Linked DNA regions of Homo sapiens: region 2 is linked to region 1. Evidence: fine-mapped expression QTL. A gene starts in region 1. The other region holds a variant in brackets. All regions are shown on one strand. Distances are between the middles of the regions.

What was found.
Region 2: its variant is fine-mapped to the expression of TUT4 in esophagus muscle (GTEx, PIP above 0.99). The same link has a PIP of 0.9 or more in esophagus mucosa, gastroesophageal junction, pancreas, sigmoid colon, spleen and transverse colon.

What each region holds. Positions count from the first base shown.
Region 1 is chr1:52,549,541-52,564,936 of GRCh38, forward strand. TUT4 (terminal uridylyl transferase 4) reads right to left here and starts at 3,552. Exons shown (of 30, transcript NM_001009881.3): 1 at 3,391-3,552. LOC105378723 (a long non-coding RNA gene) reads left to right here. Exons shown (of 4, transcript XR_007066083.1): 2 at 1,140-1,264; 3 at 1,817-1,866; 4 at 2,701-3,297. RefSeq lists silencers at 3,165-3,494, 3,565-3,694, 3,735-3,844, 3,855-4,254.
Region 2 is chr1:52,402,662-52,417,559 of GRCh38, forward strand. It overlaps ORC1 (origin recognition complex subunit 1), which reads right to left and starts at 1,762. Exons shown (of 17, transcript NM_004153.4): 1 at 1,585-1,762. It overlaps PRPF38A (pre-mRNA processing factor 38A), which reads left to right and starts at 1,941. Exons shown (of 10, transcript NM_032864.4): 1 at 1,941-2,218; 2 at 3,019-3,178; 3 at 5,908-6,029; 4 at 8,454-8,539; 5 at 9,853-9,963; 6 at 11,218-11,330; 7 at 11,960-11,986; 8 at 12,101-12,198; 9 at 12,677-12,725; 10 at 13,987-14,898. The coding sequence starts at 2,089. The coding sequence ends at 14,029. It also overlaps the pseudogene LOC124904850. RefSeq lists an enhancer at 1,261-2,460 and a silencer at 14,196-14,490. The variant GA/G (reference allele first, on the strand shown) is at 3,876.

The sequences.
Region 1 (15,396 bases):
TATGTAGACTGATACAAATGCAAATGTTTGATGAAATGAATGTTTAAATGAATGAATGAACAACCTTAGGCAGTTTCCCATTCTAAATAATTGAGAAAATAATACACCTGAAAAGCAACATCACATATACATTATATTAGGAAGAGAGATCTGCTTTGAAATCTAATTCTATGATCTTCAGCAAATCACTAACCTCTGTGACTCAAAGATTCCTCACCTATAAACAGGTTTCAAAGGGCTGTTACACTGAACGAGTGAAAAAAAAATGCATAAACAGTGTCTAGCGCAGTGCCTGGAACAAAACAGGCACTCTAAAAAGTTTTGGTTCCCTTCTCTCTCCCTCAACTCATAATTATAGATATCCAATGAGATGATGTGACATAAAAATAATTTGAACATAAGACACCACACAAATCTCTCACTTAAGGGGGAAAAATCCTAACATTAATCTTTGCATTTATATACCCTTTCTTCTCCTTGGGCCTGTAAGAAATACTCCGGAGGAAAAGTCGGAACCTGCTTTTTCAGAGTGTGTGGTTTATTTGAATATAGTCTGTACATAATAAAATAAAGATTTAAAAAAGGAAAGAAAAATACTCTGCAGAAATGATGGTTTTTAAACATTTCCCCCAAATTATGTAATTATTTAGGATTCTAGAATTAAAACAATTCAGTTAGTACCCAGTAAACAACTCTAATTGCTCTAAGATTAATAACAAAAAGTCTACATATCCTGTTTTAAAGTATGGTGTCCCTTTCCTTTGACTTTTTTAGGTCTTTCTGGAATTGTTCTTTTTTAGAACGTATTTCTATCCTACTGCAGTGGCTTTAACTGAATTTAACATTTTTTAATCAATTCAAGTATTTGCAATTTATTTGAAAAAGGAACACAACTCATTGAGTTCTATTTTGTCAAACAAAATGTTCTGGCATCAACATTAACAGGTAAGTATTGCTTTTTTTTTTTTTTTTTTTTGTTTAAGACAGGGTCTTACTCTGTCGCCCAGGCTGGAGTACAGTGGCGCAACTGTGCCTCACTGCAACCTTGAACTCTGGGCTCAGGCAAACCTCCTACCTCAGCTTCTGGGACTACAGACGCACACCACCACGCCCAGCTAATTTCTTTTATTTTTTGGCAGTGACAAAGTCTCACTATGCTGCTCAGACTGATATCAAACTCCTACGCTCAAGCAATCCTCTCGCCTCCACTTCCCAAAGTGCTGAGATTACAGGCGTGAGTGAGCCACCTGGCCAGGCCCTACAGGTAAGTGTTGGTTATTTTGTTTCTCTGAAACTAGAAACTTTAACAGTGAATAAATTCAAACACCTTTCTTGATCAACAGATCCTGATTTGACATTCTGTAGAGAACACAACATAATTAATGGTACTTATTTTTATGTCAAGATTAACTTTGAGATAAAAAAGAATTCTAATTACTTACTCTAAAATGAATCTGCTGAGAGCTAATAAAAATTCTCTTTAAACAGCTCTTTGTTAATCAGAGAAATTTATAATTATACATTTTGATTCTAAAAGGTCTAAAATTAAAATGTAGACACTGTACTGTTCTAGCTCCAGCAACTAAAAATAAATGTAATTTTAGGTGTCACTTAGAATTTATAAACTTGAACTTATATGCATGACAATATTTGTTAATTTATCTGTACTAACAACTTGGCCTATGACAATGAAAATACTTTAAATTTCTTTTCTGTATTTAAATGTTTGCTGGATTTAAAACATCAAATGTCATTAACTTTCACTTCCATTTCTGAATTATTTTAAGAAAACTTCATTTTTCATTTTCCACACTAGCCAAGTGAAAAACTGCAAGCAGCAGAAAAATTTATCTAAGAGTTTTAAAAGTAAGTTTCTTTTGTTTATATTAAATATAAATATTTTTAAAGCATAAAACGACTTAAAATTCTTATCTTCCCCAAAGTATATGGTTTCTAAGAAGCAATCTTTAAAAATTTGTTTATAAAAGCAACATAGCACACTAGACACTAATGAGTTATCTTAAGCACAGCTTTTTAAGAGAATCAATATTTCATTTTACCAGTTGTGACTAATCAGTACTACGATGCAGTGTAGTGACATACATGAGTTCTAAGCCTAAAGAAAATTTCAGCGCGCTCGCGCGCGCACACACACACATACACACACACACACAAAGTCGGCTTTTCTTTTTAAACCATCCCACAATTCAACACCTCTCGGTGGTATTCTCTGAATTATCATATCTGGCTGGGATTATCCAATTTTATTAGCTAACAGTTCTCATTACTTTAAAAACAGAAACAGGATATGTTCTGTTTCATCAAGTGCTACAAACATTTCGCTGCTGTAAGACTGGAGGGAAAAAATCTTTGGAAATAAAAGGCCATCTGATCCACTCGGGCTAATTACTAAATGCATGCCAACAATACACAATTCGAATTGCATTTCTGGACACAATTTAAGATCACGATAGGGCAGGTCAAATGTGTAAGGAACTACTACTTCTATCAAAATGAAGAAGCAGATATACGGTATCTAAGATCTCACGCAAAATTCATCTAAGACTTCGAAATCTTCTGAAAAGAAAATGTGTAATCAACGTTGTTAATACAACAGTAATTCATCCCATTCAAGTACGACTAGAAATCCCGCTGATGTGCTTCTTTCAGGTCTAAACATCTCATTCTTTCGCAATCCAGATACCAACAGGAGTCTGAAACCCTTCGCAGAGGCGTGCAACACACTAGGAGAGCGCTATCTGTTTACAAATACGAATCTCAGTTACCCACGTCAAAACCGCGCATTACCACCTTTCGACTGGGGGGCGGGGGAGAGAGAAGGCGGGCGAGCAAGAAACAAAATCCACACAGACACCTCTGCCTTCTCCCTACAAGGACGAGCCCGGGGAAACATTCAGTATGTATTATATGCGTGTATACATTTATATACATTATGTAGTCACCTATGTCTAAGCAAGGGTGAAAGAAAAAGGTACACATGACAGGGAATCGTAACTGGACCCAACAGAAATGTTCAAACCAATCCCGTTAACTCAAAATCCGCCCCGCTGGTCTACAACAGGTTTCGGTCCGGGACCGGGAGCCCCAGCCACAGTGTGGAGTTCGTCCCCAAAGCGCCCCAATGCCCTCCTCAGGCCGCCCAGGCCGCCGTCCCCACCTCCCTTATCTCAGCCTTCCCCTGGGACACCCGAAGCCCGTTCCAGGAAAGAAAGAAGTGTCAGGCCCCCAGGGGGCGGCTGAGACGCTCTCAGGCCAGGCCCCCGACACCTGCGAAGCGCGGCACCTGGGGAGGGCGAACCGGGGGCCGCCCGGCCTTCCCGAGCACACCCCCTCGGTACCCGACGCTGCCCCGCGGCCGGAACCTCGTACCTGCGAGGCCCGCGAGCTACAGGCGCGCGCGACGCCTCCTCATCTCAGTGGCTCCTGCTCTCCCTCCGCCTCCTGCTGCCGCCGCCGTCGCCGCTGCCGCCGCTGGAGGCCGGGACACGACTAGCTCAGGACTCCACCGCCATGTCCGCCGCGCCGCGAACTGCATTGTGGGGGGGAAGGGATGGGGAGGGGGAGGAGGAGGGAGAGGGAGAGGGAGAGAAAGAGGAGGACCCGCTGAGGGGAGGGGGCGAGGGAGAGCGGTTGCCGGGGGAGAGGGGGAGGGGAGAGGACAGAGCCTGTAATGGGGTCCTGGCCCGGGAGAGGAGGAGCTACGCGCAGAGGGAAGGGTTCAGGGGTGCCCCCTCCCTTCGTTCGGGGGGCCCCACAGGCACCGTTTACACCGGGGCGGGGGAGGGGGGAAACAGCACTGGGGGGAGGGGTCTCGTGGTGGCCGCGAAGAAACAATGGGGAGAAGGCCGAGGTAGGAGGATCGCGCACTCACACCCACGCGGAGGGAAGGGAGCGCGCGAGAGACACTCGTTAGCTCGCGAGGAGGGGGCGGGCCGCTGGCAGAGGGGAGGAGGGAGCCACCCGGGGCTCGCGGGCAGGGGCGGGGCCGCCGAGCGGAGGTCGCGAGGTCCCGCAGCCCGCCTGGGCGCCGCGGGTTAGCCGCGCTGATTCGCCCGCTTGCCGGAGTGGGTGGGGGTGGCGGGCGCCCCAGTGCTGCCCCAGTCTGGTTCCTAGTCTCTGCCGAGGCCCCCGAGCTGGAAGCCGAGCCCGAGGGCCGCCTCGGCGCCTCGCTCCCAAGGCTGCTCCCCCTGGGGAGGAAGGCCGGCCTGGAATGGGTACCCTCTGGCCTGGCACTCGGACTGGGCGTGGCCCGAGCCTCGGCGGACCCTCGGAAGCCCAAGCGGGCTTCGGAGCAACGGTAGGGAGCGGGGCAGAGGAAGCCGCCAGGGTCGACCCCCACCCACTCACCACGGCCTCCAGCCCACCGCAGCTGGACCTTTTTTCCTTTGAAAAGGCAGGCAGTTCAGGAATGAAGGAGCTCGAAGAGAAATCTCTGGAGCACTCCATCTCCCACCCCCAAAAGAGGTTTTAGAAATCATTTCTTTAGCTGCAGGCGGGCATAAAACCATCTACCATCAATGGGCCCCCTCATCCCCTTGCTTTTAACGTATTACATTCCTCTACATAATTATTTAAAGTCACGGGCGGAACGGACTTAAGGTTTTGTTAGTTTTGTTTTTTGTTGTTTTTTTTTAAGACCCCAGCCTCAGAGATTATTTAGCCAATCTCTGACCTCAAAGCTGGACAAAGCACACAACCTCTGTGCTCTGTGCCCAGTCCTTTGAGTTTGACACATGCTAGGCAGGAAAAAGGTATGAAAAGAGTGGACGTAGAGGTGAAGGGAAGATGTTAAATCTTAAGTATTTACAAGATAGTGCCTTATAAATTTTCTTATAATGTGACTCAGGCTGGGACTGGTTAGAGGTCACAGAGGGACGCTCCACTTCACGATAGCCCTGTGAGTTACGTACTGTTGCTCTCATTTACGGATGAAAAAACTAGGGTTCAGAGTTAGTGCATTTTACCCCAATCTGGCTGATGCTACAAGGCCCAGGTATAATGGATAGAGGACTGGATTTCAAGTCAAAAGAGCCCTACCTGGTTTTGGCGTTTATCAACATGATGCCTTTGAGCAAATGTACCCTCTTGAGTTTCCTCATCTGCAAATTCTTAATCTGTATCCCTGCTTCGCTTGACTAGCCTGGAAACAAAGAAAAAATCCCTACTTCACCCGGCTGAAAGCCTAAAGCCTATAGAGACACTAAGAAGATACCGACATGCCCTTCAATTCAGTGATAGCAGTGTCCTTAGAACAAGTTCAATTGAGTAAACATTTCCTAATTACTTAAGAGCAAAGCGTTGTTAGGTGCCTAGGGAAACAAAGACAAATCATTGCTTCCTGTCTCCAAAAAGTTCCCCATTGAGCAAGCAGGTGAGCTACAATAAAAGCAACAGGTCTTATTAACAAAGGGCTGGGCAAATCCAGAGGAGAGTGTGATAAATTCCACTTTGGTGAGACTTCCGTGGAAGAACTAAAAGCTGGACCTTGAAGATCTGTCTGCTGTGTGCCAGACACATGTCTGTGATTCAGAGGGCAGCATTGACTCTGGAGTGTGCAGAAGATAATGAATCTGGAAAAGAAAACTGGGGCCAGACTGAAAATTTCAGTGCCTCTCTGCCCTTATCCCCTCCAGATACTCTCTTCTACTACCTTGCTTATTCCCCAAGACCCAGCTCAACCTCTACCTTCTTTATTAAATCTTCCTGATTACCACCCCTCCTCTGCACTCCACTGAATGTGATCCCTCTATTCTCTGAATTCCGTGACCCCAATAGATTGTACACTTCAGCACAGATACTTACAAGGTATTCCTTCTGATACCTACATAGTTGTCGAGTTGAAAATTTTGACAACTATAATTTTATCATCACAGCTAGAGCAAGTATGGTTCTGACACAAAGAATAAGGAAATTTATGGAGTATAAGGTTTAATTCATGCCCAGGGTCATACAGTAAGTCACAGGCTGGACTAGAATACCAGCCCTGTATTCTTCCCATTGAACCACAGGTTTTTGAGATATAAAATGGTAAATGTCTGATTTCTATGTAAAAATCCTCTGAGGACTTAAACTTTCAAGGGAAATCTCATGATTGTGGTTAAGCCTCCAGTCTGGAAGTTCTGAAAACTTAGTTTCATCCAAACCCAGGTGAAAATAACTTGCAGTAAAAATCTTATTTCATTGTATCTCATGAGGAATATAATTACTCAGTGGATCAATATTCATATTCTGTTGTCTTCCTAGGTGAATAAGAAAACTTAGTAAAAAACTAATAATATTGAATGAAAAGGTGACTTGGTAAGTAAAATTATAACAAGAAAGGTGCCTAGTCCCAGCACTTTGGGAGGCCGAGGTGGGCAGATCACTTGAGGTCAGGAGTTCAAGACCAGCCTGGGCAACATGGTGAAACCCCATCTCTACTAAAAATACAAAAATTAGCCAGGCATGGTGGTGGGTGCCTGTAATCCCAGCTACTCAGGAGGTTGAGGCAGGAGAATCGCTTGAACCCGGGAGGCAGAGGTTGCAGTGAGCCGAGATCATGCCTCTGCACTCCAGTCTGGGTGACAGAACAGGACTCCATTTCAAGAAAAAAGAAAGGTGCCTAAGTCTGTTCAAACCAAGTTTTGCTGTTTGATCATAAAGGGCCCTGTATGCCACTGGAAAAAAAGCAGGCTTTATATTATAGTTATTGGGGAATCACTGATCACTTGTAAGCAGAGATAAATACAATCAGACCTGCTAAGCTGTTTCTCTGAGCCCCATTTTTTTTTTTCCTGTGTACTTGATTTCTCCAAGGAGAGAGACTATAGGCCCTGGGTGATAATGATCTCTAGTGAAAAACAGTGCATCACCCCCATGATGTGGTCCTAACCAAGTCTCCTTTACCTTTGTATTTTCAGCACCCAGCATAATCCTGACACATATAGAAAGCACTCAGAAATTGCTTGTTGACACTCTAAATTGTCTATAAAGCATAAGATATGGTCAGTGTCTAAAATTTTTGTGATTCTTGCAAAGATCATGACAATACCAAAGCTCTTGAGGTGTGTGCTCACCTCAAGATAGTGTAAAGGATTTACTTCTCTTTGTCTGTTTGCATTCTTAAAAGTCAATGAGATGAAAATGTGTAAAAATGCCTATTTCATAGTAAATGTTCCACACAAATGAATTCCCTTTCTTCTTAAAATTTAGTTTCTTCTCATCTGCCCCATTTGGATTTCATGTGCCCTTAGACTCACACTAGCACATGTGTGTACTTTCTACCTGTTGATTCCATTTCATCTGTCCTGAGGATTCTATGCGTGGAATTTTAAACTACAGCCACACCCTGCAGCTTACTTCATTGAAACATTAGAAACAGTCAGTTTTTCTTAAGGTGGCATTTTTTTAAGTGAATAAGATTTTAGAATTTAAAAGGACATTAGCGTTCATAAAGTTAGAGATATCAAGAACATATATACATGGCAGAAGATGATGCTATAAAGTTAGACTAGGACCGCATCATTGTTAAAAAAGCAAGTTTTTATTCTGAAGTTAATGGGCAATCATGGAACATCTGTAAACAAGGAGAGAGATGTTCAGACTTGCCTTATACAGCAGGTGTTCGTCTGACTTCTGTTTGTACATTCATAGCTATAGAGAGCTCATTCCTTACCAAATCTGCCTGTTCCAGGAAAAAGAAGTACTTCCTCAACAGAGCTGGACTTTTCCTTCTGTGATACATATTTGTTGGTAATCCTGACCTTAGGAATAACATCAGCCTTCTTTATACATAAAAATGAGGGAGCCAGGCATGATGGCTCACACCTGTAATCCCAGCAATTTGGGAGGCTGAGGCAAGAGGATCAAGGCCAGGAGCTTGAGACCAGCCTGGGCAACATGGTGAGACCCCATCTTCAAAAAAATAAAATTTGGCTGGGCACCATGGCTCACACCTGTAATCACAGCACTTTGGGAGGCCAAAGCAGTTGGATCACTTGGCAATCAGGAGTTCGAGACCAGCCTGGCAAACATGGTTAAAATTCCATCTCTACTAAAAAATACAGAAGTTAGCTGGGCATAGCACACGACTGTAGTCCCAGCTACTCAGGAGGCTGAGACAGGAGAATCACTTGAACCTGGGAGGTGGAGGTTGCAGTGGTCCAAGATCATGCCACTGCCCTCCAGCCTGGATGACAGAGGGAGACTCTGTCTCAAAAAATAAATTAATTAAATTAAATTAAAAATTTAACCAGGAATGGTGGTGCATGTTTGTAGTCCTAGCTACTTGAGAGACCGAGTTGGGAGAATCACTTGAGCCCGGGGGTGGAGGCTTCAGTGAGTTATGAATGTGCCTCTGCACTCCAGGCTGGGTGACAGAGTGAGACCCTGACTCTTAAATGTAAAAAGAAAGAAAAGGGTGTGAACCAGATAAACTAGGGCAGGAAAGGAGTCTAAAAATCCGTAATTCTTTTTTATTTTATTTTATTTTTTTGAGACAGAATCTCACTCTGTTGCCTAGGCTGGAGTGCAGTGGCATGATCTTGGCTCACTGCAACCTCTGCCTCCCGGGTTCAAGCGGTTCTCCTGCCTCAGTCTCCCGAGTAGCTGGGACTACAGGTGCACGCCACCACGCCCAGCTAATTTTTGTATTTTTAGTAGAGACAGGCTTTCACCATGTTGGCCAGGCTGGTCTCAAACTCTTGACCTTAGGTGATCTGCCCACCTCAGCCTCCCAAAGTGCTGGGATTACAGGTATAAGCCACTCCACCCGGCCAATTCTTTTTTATTTTTTTTGAGACAGGATCTCACTCTGTCACCCAAACTGGAGTGCAGTGGGATGATCACAGTTTATTACACCCTTGACCTCCTGGGCTCAAGCCATCCTCCTACCTCAGCCCCCCGAGTGGCTGGGACTACAGGCACACACCACCATGCCTGGCTAATTTTTTATTTTTTATAGAGGTGGGGGTCTCACCATGTTGCCCAGGCCGGTCTCAAACCCCCTTTAAGTCAGCTAATTTACCGCCCCCCCCCCAAGTCAAATCTCTCTCCTTTTTCTTTGAAACAAAAATGAGATCCAACTCCATTCTAAACAATCTCCCTCTGACCAATTCAAATGTATTAGAACAGTCTACACTCTGATGCACCTTTGTGCCCTACAAAATGTAATGCCCTCTCTCCAGAAATAAATCCTCACATATATGGTCAAATGATTTTCAGCAAGGATGCCAAGACCATTCAATGGATAAGAGACAGTCTTTTCAGTAAATGGTGCTGGGAGAATGGAATACCCAGATGCAAAAGAATGAACTTGGGCCCTGACCTTAGACGATATACAGAAATTAACTCAAATGGATCATAAGACCTAAAACTATAAAACTCTTACAATAAAACATAGGGCAAGAGCTTCACAACATTGGATTTGGCAATGATTTCTTGGATATGACACCAAAGGCACAGGCAACAAAAGAAAAACTGTATGAAAATGTAAAACATTTGTTTGTCAAAAGACACTATCAGAACTGGGGGCACTGGTATACACCTGTAGTCACCGCTACTCAAGAGGCTGAGTTGAGAGGACTCCTGGCTTGAGTCCAGGAATCAGACTGGGCAACAGAGCAAGAGTCAGGAAGGGAGAGAAGGGAAAGAAGAAAAGAAAAAACAAAGATATGATCAACGGAGTAAAAAGGCAACCTGCAAGATGGGAGAAAATATTTGTAACTCAGCAACCAAAAAAAATTGAAAAATGTGTAAATAACTTGAACAGATATTTCTCCAAAGAAGATATATCATCACTAATCATAAAGGAAATGTAAGTCAAAACTACAATGAGATCCCACTTCACACCCATTAGGATGGCTATTAAAACAAAAAGTTGAATACCAGCCTGGGCAAGATAGGGAGACCCCGTCTCTACCAAAACACAGAAAATAACAAGAGTTGTTATGAATGTGGAGAAATTGGAACCTTTGTACCCTCATGGTGGAAATGTAAAATGATACAGTCACTGTGGAAAACAGTATAGTGGTTCCTCTAAAAATTAAAAATAGAATTACCGGCTGGGTGTGGTGGCTCACACCTGTAATCCCAGCATTTTGAGAGGACGAAACAGGCAGGCAGATCACTTGAGGTCAGGAGTTTGAGACCAGCCTGGCCAACATGGTGAAACCCTGTCTCTACTAATAATACAAAAATTAGCCAGGTGTGTGGCATGTGACTGTAGTCCCAGCTACTTGGGAGGGTGGGGCATGAGAATCACTTGAACCTGGGAGGTGGAGGATGCAGTGAGCTGAGATTGCACCACTGCACTCCAGCCTGGGCAAAAAAAAAAAAAAAAAAGACTTACCATGGGATCCAGCAGTTTCACTTCTGGGTGTGTACCCAAGATAATTGAAAGCATGGTCTCAAAGAGATATGTGTACATCCGTGTTCACAGGAGAATTATTCACAATAGCTAAAATGTGGAAACAATCCCAAGTGTCCATTGGTGTATGAATGGATAAACAAAATGTGGTATATCCATACAATGGAATGTTATTCAGCCTTAAAAAGGAAGGAAATTCTGCAATATACCACAACATGGATGAACATTGGGGATGTTACGGTAAGTGAAATAAGCCAATCACAAAAAGACATATACTGTATGATTCCACTTTTATGAGGTGATTAGAGTAGTCAAAATCATAGACACAGAAAGTAGGATGGTAGTTGCCAGAGGCTGTAGGGAGGGGAAGACTAGGGAGTTATCATTTAATTGGCATAGAGTTTCAGTTTTATCAGATGAAGAAAGTGGGCTGGGTGCAGTGGCTCATGCCTATAATCCCAGCACTTTGGGAGGCTGACGCAGGTGGGTCTCTTGAGGCCAGGAGTTCAAGACCAGTCTGGGCAACATAGTAAGACCCCATCTCTACAAAAAATTTTTTTAAATAAGCCAGTCACGCTGGCGTGCACCTGTAGCCCCAGCTACTCGGGAGGCTGAGGCACATGGATCCCCTGAGCCCAGGAGTTGGGGCTGCAGTAAGCTCTGATTGTGCCACTGTCCTCCAGCCTGTATGACAGAGCAAGACCCTGCTTCTAAAAAAAAATCATTTAAAAAATCCTGGAGATGGATGATGGTGATGGTTGCACAACAATATGGATATACTTGACGTCATTGAACTGTACACTTTAAAATGATTAATATAGTAATTTTTTTTTTGAGACAGAGTTACACTCTTGTCACCTAAGCTGGAGTGCAGTGGCGTGATCTCAGCTCACTGCAACCTCCGCCTCCTGGGTTCAAGTGATTCTCCTGCCTAAGTAGCTGGGATTACAGGCACGTGACACTACACCCGGCTAATTTTGTATTTTTAGCAGAGATGGGGTTTCACCATGTTGGCCAGGCTGGTCTTGAACTCCTGACCTCAGGTGATCCGCCTACCTTGGCCTCTCAAAGTGCTGGGATTATAGGCATTAGCCACTGCACCCGGCCAACGTAGTAAATTTTATGTTATGTGTATTTCTACCACTTTTTTTTTGAGGCAGGGTATTGCTGTGTCATCCAGACAGAGGCACAATCACAGCACATTGTAGCCTTGATCTCCCAGCCTCCAGCCATCTTCTCTCCTCAATTTTTTAATTTTTTGGATAGGAGACAAGGTCTCACTATATTGCCCAAGTTGGTCTTGAACTTCTGGGCTCAAGCAATCCTCTGGCCTCTGCCTCCCAAAGTGCTGGGATTATAGGCATGAGCCACTGCACCTGGCCCTTACCACAATTTTTTAAATTAGAGGAAAATGTTATGCAGTCTGATGAGTTCTGGAGCTACAAAGTTCTATCCCATCAAGGATCTCTCAGAAATATAAACAGATAATAATATAACTGCCACAATAAGGATATGTATAAAGTATTATGAGTACACAAATAAGAGATAATTGATTTTGCCGGGGAGAGAATAACTTTAGTAGCTAAAGAATGATCAACAAAAATTTGGGGCCGGGTGCGATGGCTCATACCTGTAATCCCAGCACTTTGGGAGGCCAAGGCGGGCAGATCGCTTGAGTCCAGGAGTTCGAGACCAGCCTGGGCAACATGGCGAAACCCCATCTCTACTAAAAATACAGAAAATTAGCCAGGCACATAGTGGCATGTGCCTGTGGTCCCAGCTACTCAGGAGGCTGAGGTGGGAGGATCGTTTGAGCCCAGGAAGGACAGGCTGCAGTGAGCCAAGATGGTACCACTGGACTCCAGCCTGGGTGACAGAGTGAGACCCTGTCTCAAAAAAAAAAAAAAAGATAGTAAAAGACATTTGAGTCTTGAAGGGTGAGTGGACTTAGCCAGGTAGAGCAAACAGCATTCAAGACACAGAAGAGAAAAGGGGCAGGGCACAATTCAGGAACCTGCAGGTAGTTAGCATCTAGGGGTGGAGGGGCAAGGTATAGAAAATGGTACTGAGATGAGCGGGGCAAGATCATGAGGCCAGTAATACCATGCTAAGCACTTATGCTTAACTGGAAAGGTAGTCCTTCAAGGGTCTTACCCAGGATAATGATGTAGTTATATTTGGATATTTAAAATATGCTGTTTTCTTCTGGAGAGGAAACAGCAGTGTGTGGAAAAGAATAGAAGAGCCAAACTGAAAGCAGAGGAAACAGTAAGGGATTACTGCAGAAAATCAGGTGAGAGATTATATAAATAGGAGCAATAGGCCAGCACGGTGGCTCACACCTGTAATCCCAGCACTTTGGGAGGCCGAGGTGGGTGGATCACTTGAGGTCAGGAGTTGGAGACCAGCCTGGCCAACATGGTGAAACCCCATCTCCACTAAAAATAAAAAATTAGCCAGGCATGGTGGTGTGCACCTGTAATCCCAGCTACTCGGGAGGCTGTGGCACAAGAATCGCTTGAACCCAGGAGACAAAGGTTGCAGTGAGCCAAGATCGCGCCACTGCACTCAAAACAAACAAACAAAAAAAGAAGCAGTTGGAGTGGGAAAAGGGGCAGATTAGAGAGATATTAGTGATAGAATCAGTTAAGACTTAAATAATTTATTAAATGTGTTGTGGGTGGTGGAGATGAAGGTTTTCATGTAGAAGAGGTCATTCTCCTCCAGGGAGATTTCACTAGTACCAACTAGTTGTTTCAGTTCTGAACAACTAGTAGTGGCTGCTGGTGTGCAGTTTAGAAAAAGAGCCTAAAGCCCAACCTAGGCACAACAAGAAAAATTAGTGAATTAGTAATGTCTACAATGGATGCAGAATAGGAGAGAATTGACACATGACAAATACTTAACACTCCTATTCTCAGGCAGGAGAAAATTAAAAAGGTACTGTGTTTTGATGAATACGTATGGTGTGTTTCCATTTTTTGAAATTCAAGAACAGGAAAAATTAATCTTTGTTGGTAGAAGTCAGAATAGTGGTTATCTCTGTGGAGGTATAGATATGGACAGGAAAAGATATGGGAGCCTTCTAGAGAATTGGAAATTAACTAGATCTTACTGAGTCATGGTCACACGTGTATACTTATGTGAACATCCACTGAGTTATACACTTAAATTTTATACTCCTCACTGTACAAATGTTTTATGTCAATAAAAATGTGAAAAATGGGCCGGACATGGTGGCTCATGCCTGTAATCCCAGCACTTTGAGAGGCTGAGGCAGGTGGATCACTTGAGGTCAGGAGTTTGACACCAGCCTGGCCAACATAGTGAAACTCCGTCTCTACTAAAAATACAAAAATTAGCCGGGCGTGGTGGTGCAGGCCTGTAGTCTCAGCTACTTGAGAGGCTGAGGCAGGAGAATCACCTGAACCCAGGAACCAGAGGTTGCAGTGAGCCAAGATCATGCCACTGCACTCCAGCCTGGGCGACAGAGTGAGACTTCATCTAAAAAAAAAAAGTGAAAAATGTTAATAGTTAATATATGTTAAACATATAATAAATGTTTAAGGAATGGCAAGTAGTCTGATATCACATACAGAGAGGAAGAAAAAGTGGTTTGCAGACAACTGGGAGATAAAGTTGGAGAGATGGAATGACAATAGATTGTAAAAGGGCCGGTGCCGTGGCTCACGCCTGTAATCCTAGCACTTTGGAAGGCTGAGGTGGGCAGATGACCTGAGGTCAGGAGTTTGAGACCAGCCTGGCCAAAATGGTGAAACCCCGTCTCTACTGAAAATACAAAAATTAGCCGGATGTGGTGGTAGGCGCCTGTAATCCCAGCTACTCAGGAGGCTGAGGCAGGAGAATCACTTGAACCCAGGAGTTGGAGGTACAGTGAGCTGAGATCACGCCATTGCACTCCAGCCTCGGCAACAGAGTGAGACTCCGTCTCAAAAAAAAAAAAAAAAAAAAAAAAAAAGGTCTTGGGAGCCATATTAAGTCACTTGGACTTGATCCTGCAAACACTGGGGGAGCATTCAAAGTTTTGAAGTAGGGGAAATATATGCTTGTATCTCTGTTTTGGAAAGTAAACTGGGGGCAGTGCAGAGTTGGCTTTGAAGGGAGGAAGATGGAGAACAGATTCTCTGACCCAGATAGGATCTCAAACCCCATATCTTGTTGGCTAGAGGAATATCAGTTTTATATTCATCCTTGGAAATCATGAAAGGGAAGAAAATTCAATAGTTATCTATGAAAGCACTTGATGAGTGACTTCAGTAAACTTCAAATATTTTTATTTAAAATAACATAACCACATTGCAAAATTTTGAACCTATAGAAAAATGACATAAACTACCCACAATCCCACCATAGTGCTATTTGGTATACTGGATTTCCTACCATTCTCTTTTTTCTTTTTATTTTAACAGCTCTTCAAGATGAGGCAGCTGGCCTATGCTGATAGGAGAGTACAATGGTCTAGGTCAGATCTGGAGAGACAAAAGTAGTCAGTAAACTTATTTTGGCAGGAGCAAGACAAAATTTAAATAAAAACCAAGTCAGAAGTATGTGTCAAAATGAGCAAGCAGGCCGGGCACAGTGGTCCTGCCTGTAATCCCAACACTTTGGGAAGCCAAGGTGAGAGGATTGCTTGAGCCTAGGAGTTTGAGACCAGCTTGGGCAACATAGTGAGACCCAGTCTCTAAATACAAATTGAAAAAATTAGCCGGGTGTAGTGGCACACCCCTGTAGTTTAAGCTACTCCAGAGGCTGAGGCGGGAGGATCACTTGAGCCTAGGAGTTCATTACAGTGAGCTATGATTGCACCACTACACTTCAGTCTGGGCCACAAAGTGAGACCCTGTCTCAAGGGGGGGAAAAAAGAAGGAAGCAAAGAGCAAAGATACAAAGGTGGAAAAGTTCAGGAGTGCTATAGAAAGGGCCACGGAAGTGGAGAGGATTCATATATACAAAAACATAGAAAGAATGGCTAAGACCTAGTATTTGCTAGCACAACAGGGTGACTATAG
Region 2 (14,898 bases), 150 kb before region 1:
AGTGGCTCACGCCTGTAATCCCAGCATTTTGAGAGGCTGAGGTGGGTGGATCACCTGAGGTCAGGAGTTCGGGACCAGCCTGGCCAACATGGTGAAACCCCGTCTCTACTAAAAATACAAAAATCAGGTGGGCATGGTGGCAGGCAAATCACTTGAACCCGGGAGGTGGAGGCTGCAGTGAGCCGAGATCGCAACACTGCACTCTAGTCTGGGTGACAGAGCAGAACTCTGTCTCAAAATAAAAAAAAGAAAAGTAGATGTTATTATCACTTCAAGGTGATAACTTATCCTATCTTATACAGGATGGCACAGCCTTAACTCAAACCCGGAAAAGCCAGACTGCAATTACTGTGCTCTTAACTACTTCACCTTACAACACACTGTGTGAAACTGGATAATGTTAATATGTAACTGAGAGCTTGCTTTTGGTGTACTTATTACAATAAATCAGGCTTCCCAGCCACTGACTGAACATTGTGGATTGGGCCTCAATTTGCTTACCCACAAAATGGAGAAAATAGAATCTTCCGTTTATTCAACCAATATTTATTAAGTACCCATCGTGTGCCAGGCACTATTTTAGGATAATGGAAGATTAAGTGAAAAAATGCAAAATGGTAAATCCACTTTCCCACTACCTTAATCCCTTGCATTTATTTGTAAGGTACAGTGGTTTTATTTATTAAGTATCATTTGATGAATACTATGGAACTAACATAATTCAAGCAAAATTTTGCATTCAATTTCGGCAGATTCACAAACCTCCTAAAGTCCACATATTGCCCTCCATTAAAGTTAAAAACTGTTGCAAAGGGACTTAAACCATTCTGTCATATTGGAAACTCCTTTGGCATTTCCAGCCCACCTAACACAGCAGAGACGAGGGTACTATTATTCATGTGTTACAGACAACTAGAATCGTATATAATCATTGCAGTTTCACAAATAGATCAGGATAAGAATGCCTTTTCCAACTGTCACAGCAGAAGACTCTTCAATTCCGGGGTTAGAAAAGAGAAGTAGGAAGGGGGCCACCAGACTTCTCTTCTGAAAAGAAGGTGAATGACAGACAGCCCAGCAGTTAGGAGCTCATCTGAAAAAAAGATCTGGGTAGGAGCCCAGACTGCTTAGTCACGAAAAGCGACCTAAGACACGTCCCTCCCTGGGCGCAATTTACGTCCGTAAAATGGGGTAATAACCTCTGCTCCGCCTTCCCTGTAGTGGTTCCTACACTATAGCTCAAAGAACGAAACAAGTAGAGTGCTTTACAAATGCAGATGGAGGGAAAGTCATCACTGAGCATCAGGGTGCGGAGGGCAGGAATGCTCCTGCTTCTAGGCTGTTGGCTTCCGCCTTCCCCCCTGCAAACTCAGTTCCCTGCAGCGCGGGAAGCCTTTTAGGAATCGGAGTGTGGAACAGAGGAACGCTCTTAACAGTTCAGAACAGTGCCTGGCACTGAACAGGCGCTTGGTACATGTCAGCTAAAAGAATCAATGACTGAGTCTACAGAGAACGTCCTCAGTTTCAGAGGTTCCGATGCGCCCTCCCCCGAGTCCCTCGCAGCCCGCTGGACGCCACACTCACCCGGCTCCAAAGCTTCCTCCGGCTAGCCGCAAGCCCTCCGTTTCCTACCGCCTCCACTTCGAGAGCTCCGGGGGATGCGGCACCTCTAACCTGCACCAGCAGGGCTCCTTCTACAACTACGGGCCGAAAGCCAGGACCAAAGCGTGTGTCTCACTAGAAATGAAAAGAAGGTGGAAGGAGAAAAGAAAACTTCGCGCCAATCGGCGTGGCCCCGCCCCCAGACCGTCCCTTCGTTGCGACACCAACTAGCTCGCCCCGCCCACTCCGTACACCTAAGAGGGGCGCATGACGTACATCCGCTAACATGCAGCCGCCATCATTGATTCGATAGGCGACGCGGGGAGCGGAAGCCCTTTACACTACGGTGTTTCCGGCTTCAAGATGGTCGCCTAAGCTGTTTAGTGAAACTTCTTCCACCTTTCTCCATTCCTCTAGGTGCTTTTTCTGAACCTGGATGTGAGGCATTAAAGGATCCGACGGAAATAGAATTGAAGGCATTCTAAAATGGCTAACCGTACAGTGAAGGATGCGCACAGCATCCATGGCACCAACCCTCAATATCTGGTGGAGAAGATCATTCGAACGCGAATCTATGAGTCCAAGTACTGGAAAGAGGAGTGCTTTGGACTTACAGGTAAGTGGAAGCGCGCGGAGCGCCTCTCAGCCCCCTTGTGGCCCATTTCTCCTGACCGAGCGCGGGTAGGACTAGCGACTGGCCTCTGGGGGTGGTACTGGAACGGAGTATGTCGATCATTCAGAAAAATTTTGAGTGCCTGCTAAGTGCCTCGTCTTGTGTTGAGTATTAGAGGCACAGATGAATCTGGTAAGGTCATATTCTGAAGGCTGTCTCAGTTGGGTGTTGTGAGTTATTCCGTATTTAATGATAGCAGGCTGGGTTGCAACAGTGTTAAGCTCAGGGATCCGGATATAACACTTTGACACAATCTGTTGAAGGTCTTTAAGGACCTAACGTTAATATGCCTGAAACCAAATTCATGATCTTACTATTCTTAGATCTGGGCCGGTTCCAGTATTTATAAATATCAGTGCTTCAGAGAAGTCTTCCAGGTAATCTTCCGATTTGAATTGTGGCTTTAAATCCATGTCCTGTGACAATCTGTGGACCTTGAGCAAGTCACTTTACCTTTCTTAGCCCTCATTTTCCTTACCTGGAAATAAGAACATTGCTAGAACTTTCTTCATGACTTGTTAAAAAAGGTTAAGTGAGATAATATGAAAAGCTTAGCAGGGTACCTATTTTATTATCCATTCTCAATGTATATTAGCTGTTGTCGTTACTGTTATTAATACACATTCGTTCTCCTAATATTACACTGTTGATGTATATTTAGGAGAACCAAAGCTTGAACTAACTCCACTCCAACTAGGAAGAGCTTAGCCCTAATATGTTACTGTATTGTTTTTGTTTTTTAGCTGAACTTGTAGTCGATAAAGCCATGGAGTTAAGGTTTGTGGGTGGCGTCTATGGTGGCAACATAAAACCAACACCCTTTCTGTGTTTAACCTTGAAGATGCTTCAAATTCAACCCGAGAAGGATATCATTGTAGAGTTTATCAAAAATGAAGATTTCAAGTGAGTGCAATGTTCACTAGCTAATATAAGAGGTTTAATTTTGGCGGTTTAGAATTGGGCTTTGGTTAAGAGGGGTGTACACAATGTATCTCATTTCTAGAGAGTTCCACTCCAGATTTTTGCTTTTGAGCCCTTGAGTTTGTATTTTTTGTTTGTTTTTTGTTTTGGAAACAGAGTCTCTCTGTGTTGCCCAGGCTGGAGTGCAGTGGTGCGATCTCGGCCCACTGCAACCCCCATTTCCTGGGTTCAAGTGATTCTCCTGTCTCAGCCTCCCGAGTAGCTGGGATTACAGGCATGTGCCATCACGCCTGGCTAATTTTTGTATTTTTAGTAGAGATGGGGTTTCACCATGTTGGCCAGGCTGGTCTCGAACTCCAGACTTCAGGTAATCCCCTCCCCCCCCGGGCCTCCCAGAGTGCTGGGATTACAGGCATGAGCCACCACACCCTGCCAAGTTTGTATTTTATCTGTTCTGATTGTATTAATCTTCTACTTTACTTTCTCAGTTTTGGTAATTTTTCCCTGAAAAAGGATTTCACAGATTCACTAAATACATATTAAGCAAAAGTGAGTGCCTGATATGTTGGTAGGCACTGGACGCTCAGGGGTGAAAATCAAACAACAAAAGGTGGTGGTTAAGAGGTGTAAGATCTGGGTTCACATCCAGATTCTGTTGCCCATTAACTATGACATTGGA[GA/G]GGTTACTTAATTTTCTAAACTTTGCTTATCTGTAAAATGGTGACTATAATATAAGAGTGAAAGAACGTAATGCATGCAGATCTCTGAACACAGCACTTGCTGCATGGTAAACACCTAGAAAATGTCAGCTTATTACCGTATTACCGATTCTCGAGGAAATCACAAACAAGTATAGGAGACAGACATAATAGCTTCTTATGTGCCATGCTGTAAGGGCTTTGCATATAATAATTCATTTCACTTTCACAACAACCTTCTAAACTTTTAATCCCTATTCTACAGGAGAGGAAACTGAGGCACAGAGATTAATTAATTTTGCCCAAGTTCAAACAGCTAGTAAGTGGCAAATCTGGCTTCAGAGTTCATATTCTTTGCTACAGTATTCTGCTTCTCGTACAAAGAAACTATGACTTTCAAAAGCCTCCTAGTTACCCAAGAGGAAATTTAAGTAGTTAGATATAGGAAAAAGGGAAGAGGAACAACTCTTTTTTTTGTTTGAGACAGAGTCTCGCTCTGTTGCCCAGGCTGGAGTGCAGTGGCGCAGTCTCGGCTCACTGCAAGCTCGGCCTCCTGGGTTCATGCCATTCTCCTGCCTCAGCCTCCCAAGTAGCTGGGACTACAGGCGCCCACCACTACACCCGGCTAATTTTTTGTATTTTTACTAGAGACGGCATTTCACCGCGTTAGCCAGGATGGTCCCGATCTCCTGACCCGGTGACCCACCTGCCTCGCCTCCCAAAGTGCTGGGATTAGAGGCGTGAGCCACCGCCCCTGGCTGGAACGACTCTAATAAAGCATTAACAGCTAGAAAATACCTAACTTTTGTTAGGCACTTACTGTGTGCTCTGTGCTATACTTAGCACTTTCAATGCATTTCTTGTTTATATACCAAGCCATAAATTAGGTAGCATTATCTCCGTTTTACAAGGATTGAGAAAACACATGATTTGACCAGTAGTGTCACAGACTTAGTAAATTACGGAGTCAGAATTTGAACCCAGATGACTTACTTTTTTCCAAAACCAGCAGTCATGTTTATGTGTACTTGTTCTTGTATTGTTATTAAATATATCTTCTTTCTGTTTTAAAATTCAATATATGGCCAGGTGTGGTGGCTCACACCTGTAATCCCAGCACTTTGGGAGGCCAAGGCAGGTGGATTGCTTGAGGTCAGGAGTTCAAGACCAGCCTGGCCAACATGGGGAAACCCCGTCTCTACTAAAAATACAAAAATATGCCAGGCATGGTTGCTAACACCTGTAATCCCAGCACTTTGGGAGGCCAAGGCAGGCAGATCACCTGAGGTCAGGAGTTTGAGACTAGCCTGGCCAACATGGCAAAACCGGTCCCTACTAAAAATACAAAAATTAGGCTGGGTGTGTTGGCACATGCCTATAATCCCAGCTACTTGGGAGGCTGAGGCAGGAGAATCGCTTGAACCCAGGAGGTGGAGGCTGCAGTGAATTGAGATCGTGCCACTGCACTCCAGCCTGGGCAACAGAGCAAGATTCTGTCTCAAGAAATAAATAAATACATAAATAAAAATACAAAAATTAGCTGGGCATGGTGGCGGGCGCCTGTAATCCTCGCTACATGGAGGCTGAGGCATGAGAATTGCTTGATCCCAGGAGGCGGAGGTTGCAGTGAGCCAAGATCGTGCCACTGCACTGCAGCCTGGGCAACAGAGCAAGACTCTGCCTTAAAAAATAAAATAAAATTCAGTATTTCTTTTGATTCTTAGAGTAATCCTGTGAGGTAAATAGGTTTTATTCTAGTTTTACTGATGATATATTTGAAAGTTGATCAATATGTATGATGTTCCCACAGCCATAAATGGTAGCATGGGAACTTGAACTCAGGTCTCCATATTTTAGCTGTCTTTCTTCTGCTGCATTCTACCTCCACAATTGCAGCTTTCTTACCTGCCAAAGAGAAGAACATGTTTATCCACTACTGTCATGAGAACAGCTAGTTGTAAAACTCAGGAACTTCTAGGATGGCCTGTTGTTTCACTGTCATCTGTCTCTCAGGTATGTCCGCATGCTGGGGGCACTTTACATGAGGCTGACAGGCACTGCAATTGATTGCTACAAGTACTTGGAACCTTTGTACAATGACTATCGAAAAATCAAGAGCCAGAACCGAAATGGGGGTAAGTATGGTGCTAAGTCTCCTGATTGTCATTTTTAAGCCAGTTTTTATTTTACCAGTACTTCTACCTTTGCATTGTCATAGACAGTGTGAATGCTCCTTTTCATCTACATTGTTACTGTCTCTATGCAGGTTTTCCCTTGTCCCTCATGGGAGTTTTCAGTCTGACTACTAGCTTCGTGTTGGCCTTACCCAGCCTGCCTCTGTCTGTCTCCCTTTCCAAGTGCATCTTATGTTAATCCCTGCCTTGCATCATATGCCCCCTTTACATGTGCTCCATCCCAAAAGATCTAGCTGCAGAATGGCTTCTCCATAAAAACCTTCCCCAGCCCTCTCAGACAAAATTAGTTTTCCATATTTTACATCTTCACAGTTCTTTCTACTGGCCTCTCCTCTAACACTGTAATTCACACTGCAGCATATAAGACTACTCATTTTTATACAGGAATCCCACTGAAAAATAAGTATATCCAAGAGAGGCAGCTCCATACCTTCTACAAGGAGATTACTTAATGTGCTAAGGAGGGATTCCAGGTAATGCAGTCAAAACCTTTTCTCACTTGGTGTCATAACAGAAGATAGGAACATTTACCTTTCCCCCTACATGTATCATTAAACAGTAGAAGGTTAAGAATTTGGGGCCAAGCACGGTGTCTCACACCTCTAATCCCAGCACTTTAGGAGGCCAACATGGGCAGATCACTTGAGGTCAGGAGTTTGAGACCAGCCTCGTCAGTATGGTGAAACCCTATATCTACTAAAACTACAGTAATTAGCAGGGTGTGGAGGTGCACACCTGTAATCCCAGCTACTCAGGAGGCTGAGGCAGGAGAATCCCTTGAACCAGGAGGCGGAGATTGTAGTGAGCCGAGATCACGCCGCTGTATTCCAGCCTGGGCGACAGAGCAAGACTCCATCTTAAAAAAATAGAATTTGGTATTATACTTTAAACTTATTGATTCATTCATTGAATAAATACATATTAAGTGCCATTGACATGTCACATACTGTGCTATGTGGTGTAAATACCATGGTGAACAAGATGGACATGGTCATGGCCATGATGGAGTTATTTATTTATTATTTTATTACGTAAAACTAAGAATTTCTGAACCTATTGACATTTTGGGTCATATAACTTTTGTGTGAGGATTGGCTTGTGCATCATAGAATGAGTAGCAGTATCTCTAGCCTCTACCCACTAGATGGAAGTAACACCTCCTTCTAAGTAGGGGGATGGGCATGTGCAAAATTGCCCATGGTTGAGAACCCCAGAAGTAAGGTAATGTTTACCATGGAAGTTCTCAAAAGCTATATATGTATATGTATGTATGTATATATATGTATTTGTATATGTGTATATACACACACATATATATACATTTTATAATTATATTTACATACAAATATATAAATATACATAATCATATATAATTTATATATAACATAATTTATATATAACATAATTTATATATAATATAAATTGCCTGTAATCCCAGCTACCCAGGAGGCTGAGGCAGCAGAATTGCTTGAACCCGGGAGGCGGAGGTTGCAGTGAGCCAAGATTGCACCACTGCACTCCAGCCTGGGCAAAAGTGAGACTCCGTCTCAAAAAAAAATTTTTTTTCTAACTCTAGCCAAAAACAATATTTCCTTATTAAAAACACCTCAGCTCTGCCATATACTAGTAGTATAATCTTACGCAAATTACTTAAATTTAGTTTTCTCCTATGTAAAGTGAGGTTAATGATACTTTTATATATATATAGATGTATATATATATATACACACACACACACATATATATAGACATATAATTTTTTTTTTTTTGAGATGGAGTCTCACTCTGTTGCCCAGGCTGGAGTGCAGTGGTGTGGTCTCAGGTCACTGCAACCTCTGCCTCCCAGGTTCAAATAATTCTCCTGCCTCAGCCTCTTGAGTAGCTGGGATTACATGTGCCCACCACCATGCCCAGCTAATTTTTGTGTTTTTAGTAGAGATGGGGTTTCGCCATGTTGGCCAGGCCTGTCTTGAACTCCTAACCTCAAGTGATCTGCCTGCCTTGGCCTCCCAAAGTGCTGGGATTACAGGCGTGAGCCACCACTCCTAGCCAGTTCTCAAAAGCTATCACTCCATGTGCCATATAAGATACATGTTCTAAATTCAGAAACATTGAAGGTTCAGATGAGAAATTATATTTAAGTTATATGATCTCTTCAAGATCATCCCTACATAATTCAGGACTGTTTGTGCTTGTTTTTGTGTTTGTCTCCTGCTAATTGGGACATCTTCATTCATCCCTTAATCTCTTCTAAAGAGGCCTAGCACATAGATGTCCTGATATGAAGTCTTAACACTTCTTTTACTTTTTGGCATCTAAATCTTTTATTTCCAGGTTGTTTGCTCTAATGACTTTTTCTTGCAGAGTTTGAATTGATGCATGTTGATGAGTTTATTGATGAACTATTGCACAGTGAGAGAGTCTGTGATATCATTCTGCCCCGACTACAGGTAAGAAATAAAAGTCTGTTACCAGAGTCACCCTTCTCTTCCTAGACGGGCAGACAGACAAACACATACACACAGCTTAAACACTGAAGCCTGTGGATCTTATGGGTCCTCTTAATGAATAGTCTTCCTGTCTGGGAGTCCCAAGATAGTGGATTGGGAGTGAGAGGAAAATAGATAAAATATTTGAAGGGTAGGGCTTTAAAAGTGAATGGTTTAAAACAAGGAAACTTTGTTTTTCTCCATCCTTTTGTAGTTCAGGTGCATGTGTGAGTTGTGCCTCCCTCAAACCTTGTTACAAAGTCAGCACATTACCTGTCTATCATGAAAAAAGAAATTTATTCAGGATGTTACATCAAGGGTATTGTAGCTAGAGTAGGTAGGGAGTTTTTAACTTCATGAACGTTTTTTTTAAACTAATCTTCATGTAAAAAGCCAGGACATAAAACAGATAAAAATAGGGCCAGGAGTGGGAGACTGAGCCATTAATTCCTTAAACTTGCCTTCACCATCCTGCTTCCCTTTCCTAGTGATAAACGATTATCCATGAGGCATCTTTTCAGGAAATGAGTGTGATACAGCTCTCCTGTTCCATGTTGGCACTGTAGGGCATGTAGTGGAAAGAATGAGATTATAAATTTGAAAACCTACTTTGAGGGCCCAATTCTTATAGCAAGACAATGTCTTGCTGTGTTGCCCAGGCTGTTCTTAAACTCCTGGGCTCAAGGGATCTTCCTACCTCAGTCTCCCAAGGAGCTGGGACCACGGGTACATGCCACTACATTTAGCCATTTGGCATTTTTGAAATCAGCTTTGCCTCTCTGATCCTTAGCCACTCAAATAAACATTGCTAAGCCATATCCCAGATTAAAATGGAACCAGTTCAAAATGCATGAATATCAACAGCTCCCGAGATCCTGGGTCTACTGGAGATTTGGTACTACTCTAGGGCTAGGCCTCTTCTAGTGGAACTACCAGCCATGAACTTATTAGCCCTTGGATTTTCTCTGTGTGTGAAGCCCTTACTTTTGGTTCTAGGCTGTACCTATACTGATTGATATTCCCATGACTTTAGAGTATAAGGTACAGGGAATAGAGTCAATAGAAAATGAAGATGTTCTCTTCAGGTTTGTATTTATGTTTATAGGAGAACTTTATAGATTTCAGGTCTATTAAACTTGTTAGGAAAATCTTGAACTGTCTTTGAAATGAAATTGCCTCAGCTGTTGCTCCTTGGAACCCTGAAGCCCAGTGTTGAGGTTTCAAGAAATAGGGGAAATGGCAACAACCCCTAACTCTCATCATTTTCTCTGTAGAAACGCTATGTATTAGAGGAAGCTGAGCAACTGGAGCCTCGAGTTAGTGCTCTGGAAGAGGACATGGATGATGTGGAGTCCAGTGAAGAGGAAGAAGAGGAGGATGAGAAGGTCTGGCACCTGAGACTTTTATGGTTGTAGGGGAGGGAGTAATAGAAAATGGGAATGGTTTTTTGTTTTTAGACTTTAATTTTTAACTCTATTGGCCGGGCGTGGTCGCTCAAGCCTGTAATCATAGCACTTTGGGAGGCCAAGGCGAGTGGATGACCAGCGGTCAGGAGTTCAAGACCAGCCTGGCCAACGTGGTGGTGAAACCTCGTCTCTACTAAAAATACAAAAATTAGCCAGCGTTGTGGTGGGTGCCTGTAATCCTAGCTACCCAGGAGGCTGAGGCAGCAGAATTGCTTGAACCCGGGAGGCAGAGGTTGCAGTGAGCCAAGATCGCAACACTGCACTCCAGCTTGGGCAAAAGTGAGACTCCGTCTCAAAAAAAATTTTTTTTCTAACTCTAGCCAAAAACAATATTTCCTTATTAAAAGCACCTCAGCTCTGCCATATACTAGTAGTATAATCTTACGCAAATTACTTAAATTTAGTTTTCTCCTATGTAAAGTGAGGTTAATGATACTTTTTTCCCCAAGACTGTTAAAAGTATTAAATAAGATTATAAACTTAAAGCCCTTAGCAGAGTATTGGCACATTATAATTGCCTAATAAATGGTGGCAGCTATTAAATACTTGGAAAGAAAGAACACTTTCATAATTGCACCTATCCTAAGGAATAAACCTTGTTTAGGAGGGGGAAAATGTCAACCGCATAGTCATGTTCTTTCAGTACTAGTTACGGTGCTGAAAAGTTGAAAACAACCAAGCTGCCCAGTTGTTCCAGGAAGCAAACTTTTTTTTTTTTTGAGATAGGGTCTTGCTCTGTTGCCCAGGCTGAGGTGCAGTGGCTCACTGCATTCTCGGCCTCCCAGGCTCAAGCAGTCTTCCCATCTCAGCCTCCCAAGTAGCTGGAACTACAGGCACGTGCCAGCATACCTGGCTAATTTGTGTATTTTTTTTGTAGAGATGGGATTTCACCATGTTGCCCAGGCTGCAGATAAACTAAACATACACACATACACACACACAGGTCTGTTTCTGTTCCCTCTCCTATGAGTCATTTTGGCTGTCTTATATAGCTCATAATAAGTTTTGTTAGTTAATAGGGTAAGTGCTTCCCTCTTTGTAGTCAGGTTACTGTGCTTTAAAGTCACATGGAGATGGACTTTGGGACAAGATGGGGCGTGAAGTATAATTAGTGTTCCTAGATGGCTCTTTATAAGCCTGTGCCTTTCAATGACCCAATCATCTTGTTTCCAGTTGGAAAGAGTGCCATCACCTGATCACCGCCGGAGAAGCTACCGAGACTTGGACAAGCCCCGTCGCTCTCCCACACTGCGCTACAGGAGGAGTAGGAGCCGGTCTCCCAGAAGGTAAAGCCTAGTCATTGGCCTTTTCCCAGAAGATTTTGAGCACTGTAGCCTAGAAGTTTGGATTTTAGAGAAGGAAAAATGCACGTCTATGGAGAATGTTTGCCCAATATATTAGTTATCTGTTGCTGCAAAACAACCACCTATAAAACCTCATTGGCAGACAACAATAACCATTTGTTCCTTTCACAAGTCTGCAGTCAATGATTTAAGCAGAGCTTGGATAGGCAGTTTTTAAAGTACCTGTTCTGTTGTCGGCTGTCTACTGGCTGGTATGGAATTGCCTTAGCTTGGATGACGGGGGAAATTTCTCTTCTCTGTGTCATCCTCTAGCAGGCTAAGTTGGGCATATTCTCATGGTAGTGGCAGAACTCAAGAGCAAACAAACCCGGTCATGCAAATGTTTTTCCAGTATCTGCTTTTATCACATTTGCAAATATCTCATTAGCCAAAGCGAGTCATGTCACCAGTCCTAAAGTTAGAATGGGAGGGTGCTAGAGTTACGTGACAAAAGACATGGATACAGAGGTGGGTGATACAGAGAAGCGTGAAGGATAAGATTGGGGCCGTTTTTGCAATCTACCACATCCAGTGCGCCAACCTAGGCTTTCTTCTTCCTCTCCTCTTTATAGGCGGAGTCGATCTCCCAAAAGGAGAAGGTAGGCCTTCAGTCATTTGTGATGAAGGATAGGGCTTTGGGGAGGGGGTGGTGGTATTGGTGTTATATGTATATTGCTAACCAGATCTGGTAGTCTGACCAGTCTTTTCTACAGCCCCTCCCCTCGCCGAGAAAGGCATCGGAGCAAGAGTCCAAGACGTCACCGCAGCAGGTCCCGAGATCGGCGGCACAGATCCCGTTCCAAGTCCCCAGGTAAAGCTTGTGGGCCTTTTGCCACAGGTTGTCTTAACAAAGAAATGTAAAAGGAGTAGTTAGCCTCCTGCAGTACAGGAGTGCCTGACTGTACTGCCTAACAGAAAAGCAAATGGACATAGAATTTGAAAATTAAGGTTCACAGCTTGACTGTCACTTATAAGCTTTGCTGATAAGGTTTGCTTTAGTTTTTTCATCTAAAATTGGAGGAATAAGATCTAACATAATAGTGAAAACCCAATATGATGTTTGTGAAATTAGTCATAAAGCCCTTGAATGTATATGTATTTGAACTGGTTTCATTACTACTTTCTTTGCTCCCTCTTCCTCCACTAATTCAGAGTTGCTTCCACTAAGAGGTGTCCCCTGCATAGGCCAAAAGAATATTAAGCCAATGGCAGGTATTAGGGGAGGTGAGAATGACAGTTTAATAAGAGTAGAAGGGTAGGATCTTATGCAATGGCCTTTTCTTCCCCAGGTCATCACCGTAGTCACAGACACAGGAGCCACTCAAAGTCTCCCGAAAGGTAATGAATTGACCTCTATTTTAACTTTACAGAAATAGTCCAAATTACAACTAACTGGACCTGAAATTTTCTTGTTTTGTTGGGGGATGTTAGGAATTCTCCTGCATTACAAGACAAAATTGGTCTATTGCTTTGAGAATTACTGGGGTTAGATAACTTTTTCTTTTTTCTCTTTTTTGAGAACTGAGTTTCGTGCTTGTCTCCCAAGCTGGAGTGCAGTGGCGTGAACCTGGCTCACTGCAGCCTCTGCCTCCCGGGTTCAAGCTGATACCTGTTTTGCTTTACAGGATTGCAGCTTTGGACAATGGATGAGCTTTGGTCTCAGAAAACATGGGGTTTAGTCCCAAGTTTTAAAACTTAACAGTTGAGTGACCTTGGACAAGTCACTTTCATTTGATAAGATTTCATTAGAAACCCCCATGTGCCATATACCGTTGGGTGCACTCTTTTTTTTTTTTTTTTTTTTTTTTTTTTGAGACGGAGTCTCGCTCTGTCTCCCAGGCTGGAGTGCAGTGGCGCAATCTCGGCTCACTGCAAGCTCCACCTCCTGGGCTCACGCCATTCTCCTGCCTCAGCTTCTCGAGTAGCTGGGAATACAGGTGCCCGCCACCACCCTTGGCTAATTTTTTATATTTTTAGTAGAGACGGGGTTTCACCATTTTAGCCAGGATGGTCTCAATCTGACCTTGTGATCCGCCCACCTCGGTCTCCCAAAGTGCTGGGATTACAGGCATGAGCCACCGCGCCGGGCCTGTTTGGTGTACTCTTAACCTCTAAGAGGTCATTTCCTCAATGGTAAAATTTGGATAGTAATGCCTGACTCAAGAGTGTTGCTCTGAGTCAAAAAAATACCAAGCAGTTTAATGAATATTGAGTGTCAGCTCCATCCCCATCAATGTCAGCATACCAAGGTCTTTCTCAGGACTCCTTTTTTTTTTTTGAGATGGAGTCTCACTCTGTCATTGAGGCTGGAGTGCAATGGCCCAATCTCGGCTCACAGCAACCTCCACCTCCCGGGTTCAAGCAATTCTCCTGTCCCAGCCTCCTGAGTAGCTGGGATTACAGGTGCCCGCCGCCATGCTCGGCTAATTTTTGTACTTTTAGTAGAGACAGGGTTTCACCATGTTGGCCAGGCTGGTCTCGAATTCCTGACCTCAGGTGATCTGCCTACCTTGGCATCCCAAAGTGCTGGGATTACAGGCGTGAGCCACCGTGCCTGGCTGCTTCTTAATATAATTATTTATATGTGTTGCCATTTCAGGTCTAAGAAGAGCCACAAGAAGAGCCGGAGAGGGAATGAGTAATGGACTCAGTTTGGTTTTAGTCCACATGGCCTCCTGTGGATATAAGGATATCTGTATGTGGAAGGATTAAGATCTCCCCCAGGCAGCTATAAGAATATTTTAGTTTTTTTCTTATCAAGTTTCTCAACCTTTATTTTTAATGAAGGAGGTGCTGAGTTTTGTATCTTTTTAATCATAATCAACATCAGTTTTTGACCCAACTAACCTTGACTGTATTCAAACTTATGAGAGTATAAAGGATCTGGAGGTTGGGGATATGACTGACAAGGAAAGGCTGTGGCCACCTGATGACCCTTTCCCTTTTTATTAAACCGGACACACCTGTTTCCCATTTCGCTGTAGTTTAGTTTTTGGTTTGTTGTGGTTGGAACTGCTTTGAGAATCCTGGGATTTGTGCTGCTGCTGTTATTCAAAGATCAAAGGAGTAAAACATAGTTGCTCCTAACTTTTTTCCAGCAGCAGCAAGTGGTAATAAACATGAAAACTGGTTTGTAGCAGTTTTGAAAGAATAGAATGCATTCAAATGTAAGGCTGCTTCTGGATCATTAAAGCCAGTTTCATCAAACAGTTCAACAGAGAGCAGCACTTAATACCCTTTATACAGCCCATTTTTTCATAGTTTCATTTGTTCTTGCCCACAAGCTTGAAATCCAGGTTAAGGTATCCAGCCTTTATCATATAAGCATTGACATTATCCAGGCCTAGTCAGTAGCAGTAGGGTAACGGGATTGAAAAAGATTTGATGGAGAGGAAAGTATCTAATATTAGTCATGGTTTTGACCTAAATTGCTAGACAGTCGTGCCATTCACAAAGTCAGAAAATACAGCAGGAAGAGACAGCTTTTAGAGGGGCAGAGAATTAGAGGATG